Linked DNA regions of Homo sapiens. The protein of the gene in region 2 purifies or fractionates together with the protein of the main gene of each other region. This does not show direct contact. Each region holds a gene or a part of one and is shown on either strand. Other genes may lie near its edges.

Region 1 (3,658 bases), on a different chromosome or scaffold from region 2:
TGAAAAGGTCTTGGGGACTGCAGGGCCCCGGACCATCTTTGAGAACTGCTGCCATATGCTATCTGAGTTCTAGCATTCCAAGGACACTAAATCCTAAATTACAGACCATGAGGTGCTTTATGCTAAGGTTCTAGCTAAAGAGCACTCTAAGTGTAGAGAATGCAGAGTCTAGGAGTCTGTATAATAGGATTGAAACCCAAATACCAACCAAGGTCACAGGCACTGGAAGAGAAGGAAGTGGGCTAGGCCCCAAGTAACATGGCGGAGACCACAATATCCAATCTAATCTATCCACAGGCGCAGCTGTTCCTTAGCACTGAAAAATCACTGCTGTGCAAGAATGCAGGCCAAGGGTGGTTGCTGTTTTCTGAGAGAAATCAGAAATACAATTTTTTTCCCCTCTGAAATCTCAGAATTTTAAGTGTTGGCTCCTAATTACAAACAAAAACCTAAATGGGCCAAATTAAATATGTCTGCTTGCCCTTCAGGCAAGTTTGCAACTTCTGCCTGTGGTTTTCAACTCTGGCTTCATGTTGTTAAACATCTGTGGAGCTCTTTAAAACCACAGACACCCTAGAACTCCTGGAACCATCTCCAATGGTGCAGCCCAGGCAGCAGTTTTGATTTTCCCTGACAACCTCCTTAAACAAGTGTGAAGCCCATCCAGGGCTGAGATCCATAGCTAGTGCTGTGTGGCAGCTCTAAGTGCCAAGACTACTGAGGAGGAAGCAAACTGTGGACATGTGGAAGGTGGTGGTGAGGAGCTTTACCCTGATGTCCCAGGCCACGTTATTCTCTACTGCGTAGGGCAGAGTCAAACAGAACACCGCTCCACCAGGACCCCCTAAAACAAAGAAAACATCACCACCAGACCCTGAATAGATAATGATGCAAGCCCAACTGCCTCACGATTGCTTCAAAGTACCATGGAGAGCTACCAAATGCCCAGCCAAGCCAATACCAGCCATCTCGGCAGTTTTGTGGTCCTCTGGTAAGTTTTGAGGAACGGCGCTCTCTTCTCAGATTCCCCAAATGCATCTCAACTTTCCCCAAATGGCCTTCGTCTCCCACTACACCCAGGCCTATTCACTGTCTGAACTCACGTAGGAGGGCAGAATTCAACCCCCCTTCTCCACCCCAAGCTCCTCCAAATGCCACTCGAAGCTCACCCCATTCCTGCTGCTTCTGCTCACTCTGACCACCTCAGAGGAGGAGCACACACCAGACCCAGGTTGACCCTAACACCTAATGAATGCACGAGGGTGCCGGGAAAATCCCATTTTCTGGTAAACGGAGAGGCAGGCTGAAGGCTTGTTTGAAACATTTTGCAGAAGCCCAGTGAGGGCTTTTCTGTCTATACGCAGGATCCTGGGCAAAATGGAAAGTCTCTTCAAAGAGTATAAAGATTTTGCAGCCTGGATACCCCTTGGGTACCATCAGGCCCCTTCTGCTACAGATACAGGAGGCACAGTGGAGGTGAAAGCACACATTCTGCTCTAAGCAAAAATCCCAGAATTAGTTTTTATAATAAATTCACGAGAAACTTTCCAAAAGTTGTTTAAGATAGGTTCCAACTATTTCAGTTCTAGCTAACCAATAAAAATTCAGTTGCATCTCACCCTCTCAGGGGCTAGGTTTTAAGTCAACAAGGTGCAAGCTGAGAGAAGCCAAACCACCCTCAAAAATCTCTCGACTCATACCTGGTCAGGCTTTTAAATCAGTAGTTCTCAACTGAAAGCAACTCTGCCCCCGGGGGGACACTGGGACGGAGACATTTCCACTGTCATGACTGGCGGGGATGAGGAGGGGGATGTGCTATTAGCATTTAGTGGGGTAGAGGCCAGGGATCCTCATTAAGATCCTACAGTGCACAGCGCAATCGCCCACAACAGAGAATTACCTGGCCCCAGATGTCTGTAGTGCTCAGGCTGGGATCCCTGAGATCACTAAGTGACAGGCAGGACAGAACTTAGGAGGACCCAGAGCCCAGGCCCTGCTGGTCTTCTGCCAGGGGCTCAGCCCAGGGCCAACTCTGAGTGGGGCAGGTTCACCCACACAATGGAGACTTTGCTGAACCCTTCAGCTGAATGTGTCCAGAGCAGAGTGCACTGTAGTAAAAACAGTGACCTGAGTGTTTATTACTATGAGCAGAGACTGGTGCTAAACAATGTATGTGCACTCATTCCTTCAATGCTCACAGCAACCACGAGGTGGGTGTGGTTACCATTATTCCCATTTTATTGGTGTGGAAACGGGGGGCTCAAAGAGGTTAAGAAATTTGCCCCAAATGACTCAGAGTGGACAGCGGAGTTAAAACACAAACCCAGCTCTCTGAGGACCAAAGCCTGTGTCCCCACCATCGATACCAGTGAGTCTCTCACCTGGGGGCGATTCTGCAGCCTCCCCACCCCCACTCCCCAGGGGCTGTGTCAGGAGACTTCTTCTGTTGTCATGACGACCCCGCGAGTGAGGGGAGGTGTGTGCTACTGGCATCTAGTGAGTAGGTCCAAGGATGCTACCGTGCTGCTAAGGATCCTGCAACGCACAGGACAGCCCCTCCCGCCAAAGAGAGCCATCAAAACGTCAACTGCACCACACAAAGGTGAGAGCCCTGCTTCACACTGTCTCCCGGGTTTCCACCACGCATGTCCACAGGCCAACAGGGCCTTTCATGTCAGGATCTAGAATCCAAGATTCCCTGGAGTTCAAATGTGCTTTGCTCACCCTCTTTCCAGTCTTCTTTACCTTTGCCAGGGACAAAACTCTGCCTTCAAATCCTGATGTCAGCCTACAATGCAGCATAACCCTAGAGACAGGATGAGTAATGAGTCTGGGAGGTATCAATGGGGAAATGCCAAGCAGGGGAGACTTATCCCTGGATGCAAGGGTGAAACATGCACACACACTGTCTGAGAGGAAAAGCACTCAGGTGGACTTTAAAAGTCCCAGACCACAGGAAGGGCTGTGAGAGTTGCTGTCACCATCCATGAGGCGTTCACCATGGTGACGAGGGCCAACAAGATGCTTTACACAACAGAAAACATTTCCTCGTATACAAGCAGAGGACACCTACCCTCTACTACTCAAACCAGCGGGTCTCAACCCTGCCTGCACATGAGAATCACCTGTGCTGCCACCTGTACAGAGGCCCAGAACCCACCCAACACCAGAGAGAATCGGAATCTGCAGGGCGTGGCGACTGAGCATCTGCGGTTTCAGGAAAGTTCCCCAGGGGGTACTGATGCCCAGCCGGGTGGACAGCCGCTGCTCAGCCTGACACAGAGGTGGGACTGGCCCAGAGAAGAGAGATGGCAAATGGATGGAGGAGGGACTGGGTGTGAGGGTGGAGCAACTTATGATCTCAGTCTGGAAAGGCAGAAGCCAAGAGGGCATTTGACTAGAGCTTAAACAGCAAGAACAAACACGTGACCATGGGGCAGCCCCTAAAGCTTCAAAAGGCACAGGCAAGGAGGCCCCACTTTACACAGTGAATAACAAATTAAACATCCTGGCAGGCTGTACAAGCCAAAACCAGAAATGGAGTGTTCAAGAAACACACAATGACTGATTGAAGGACGGCAGGGATATATGAGGCACAAAGTCCACCAAGATTTGATTTCCTGAGGACAGTTATCCCAGAACTAGCGTCAGGGACAAC
Region 2 (2,309 bases):
TATCATGGGTGGGATAAGGTGGTGTGTTCTCTAAAAGATATATTTTTTCTAATTAATTTTTTATTGATATATAATAGTTGTCCATACTCTAAAAGATATTTGATTGTTTTATAATATGCCTTTCACTCTCTGGTTTTAAGAAAAATTGTCAAGAATGCAATAGCCAAGAATTCAGAAATTCAGAATATAAACACATCCTTCTACCACAACCTTTTCTCACCCCATTGTTTTCTCATGTCCCCTGCAAGCAGTTTTTCTTTCTTTTTTTTTTTTTTGAGACGGAGTTTCACTCTTGTTGCCCAGGCTGGAGTGCAGTGGCGTGATCTCGGCTCACTGCAACCTCCGCCTCTCAGGTTCAGGTGATTCTCCTGCCTCAGCCTCCCAAGTAGCTGGGACTACAGGTGCCTGCCACCACTCCTGGCTAATTTTTTGTATTTTTAGTAGAGACGAAGTTTCACTATATTGGCCAGGCTGCTGGTCTCGAACTCCTGACCTCGTGATCTGCCCGCCTCGGCCTCCCAAAGTGCTGGGATTACAGGCATGAGCCACCACGCCCAGCCCCTGCAAGCAGTTTCTTTAACTCTGTTGGGATGCCATTCGTGGGCAAAGCTAGATTTGGGACAAGTTGCCCAGCTCTGCTAGGAAGAGTCAGTCCTCAGGGGGAAGTTTCTTTTCACCTCCGGGATCCCCAGGGCTTCCTGGGTTGACTCAGGACTTCATACGCAGCCTGGATCTCCAGGAAGTGCCTCTGTGCCTCCTCTGTCTGGTCCAGGTTGTGGTCTGGGTGCCAGACCTTCACTAGCTCCTGGTAACTCCGATGTATTTCTTCATTTGTTGCCCCTTCTGAGAGGCCCAAAACCTTATGGAAACAGAAGATGACAAATTAGAATCCCCCAAGTTGTCAGGGTACCTGGGCCTCTCCTTGCACCTTTGCTAAATCAGGCTATCATATCTCTAGAATTGGCTTCTACTTGCCCGTGGGAAAGGTCCAGCAGCTCAGGTTAGAATTCCAGCCTTATAGAGTAATAATAAAAGAAAAAAATTATTTTAGAAAAAAGAATTCCAGCCTTTTGAAACATAGACAAGCTCTAGATCTCATGGCAAGAGCCATTAACCACAACTGCCCATTTTCCAACCTGGAACTTCATATCCCTGGCAAGATCTCTTCCCCACAAAAGACATAAATGTATATATGTCCACCAAAGACATGTACAAGAAAGCTCATAGCAGCTTTATTTATAATAGCCCCAAACCATAAACAACCCAAATGTTCATTAACAATAGAGTGAATAAATTAACTGTGGTATAATCATACAATGGGATACTACACAACAGTGAAAACAAACAATTTACAATTGCAAGTAACAGGAGGAATAATGGTCGGGCGTGGTGGCTCCTGCTTGTAATTCTAGCACTTTGGGAGGCCGAGGCGGGTGGAGCACCTGAGGTCGGGAGTTCGAGACCAGCCTGACCAACATGGAGAAACCCCGTCTCTACTAAAAATACAAAATTAATTTGGCGTGGTGACGCATGCCTGTAATCCCAGCTACTCGGGAGGCTGAGGCAGGAGAATCACTTGAACCTGGGAGGCAGAGGTTGCAGTGAGCTGAGATCGCGCCATTGCACTCCAGCCTAGGCAACAAGAGTGAAACTCCATCTCAAAAAAAAAAAAAAAAAAAAAGAATCAAGAGGAATACATCTCATAAACATGATGTTGAATGAAAGATGAAAGATGCCAAATACAAAAGAACACATACGGGATGGTTCCACTTATTTGGAGCTCAAGAATGAGCAAACCTGGCTGGGCACGGTGGCTCACGCCTGTAATCCCAGCACTTTGGGAGGCAAAGGTGGGTGGATCACCTGAGGTCAGGAGTTGGAAACCAGCCTGGCCAACATGGCGAAACCCTGTCTCTATGAAAAATACAAAAATTAGCCGGGCGTGGTGGCACACGTCTGTAGTCCCAGCTACTCGGGAGGCTGAGGCAGGAGAATCGCTTCAACCCAGGAGGCAGAGGTTGCAGTGAGCTGAGATTGTGCCACTGCACTCCAGCCTGGGCAACACAGCGAGACTCCATCTCAAAAAAAAAAAAAGAAGAAGAAGAATGAGCAAAACTAATGTATGGTGACGAAAGTCTGAATAGAAATGACCTCTGAAGGTGGGAGTATAGGCTGAGAAGGGGAATAAAAGAAACTTCTTAGTGCTGGAAATGTTCCATCCCTTGATCTGAGTCAGGTATACATAAAATTAGTGCAATTTATATATGTTGTACCTCAATAAAAAGTAAATAATATACACATATATTTTT

The links. Proteins that work in one complex are often made in the same cells at the same time.
Region 1: the proteins of DNAJC22 (region 2) and RANBP3 purify together in Homo sapiens (affinity purification with mass spectrometry, with the first as the bait; one large-scale study listed by BioGRID). This does not show direct contact.

What each region holds. Positions count from the first base shown.
Region 1 is NC_000019.10:5,971,626-5,975,283, forward strand, and holds part of RANBP3 (ran-binding protein 3), read right to left. Parts: intron 2,807-3,658; exon of another isoform or gene 2,725-2,806; intron 1-2,724. UniProt on the Homo sapiens protein: Acts as a cofactor for XPO1/CRM1-mediated nuclear export, perhaps as export complex scaffolding protein. Bound to XPO1/CRM1, stabilizes the XPO1/CRM1-cargo interaction. In the absence of Ran-bound GTP prevents binding of XPO1/CRM1 to the nuclear pore complex.
Region 2 is NC_000012.12:49,349,867-49,352,175, reverse strand, and holds part of DNAJC22 (dnaJ homolog subfamily C member 22), read right to left. Parts: intron 1,015-2,309; coding exon of another isoform or gene 976-1,014; intron 860-975; coding exon 674-859; 3' UTR 1-673.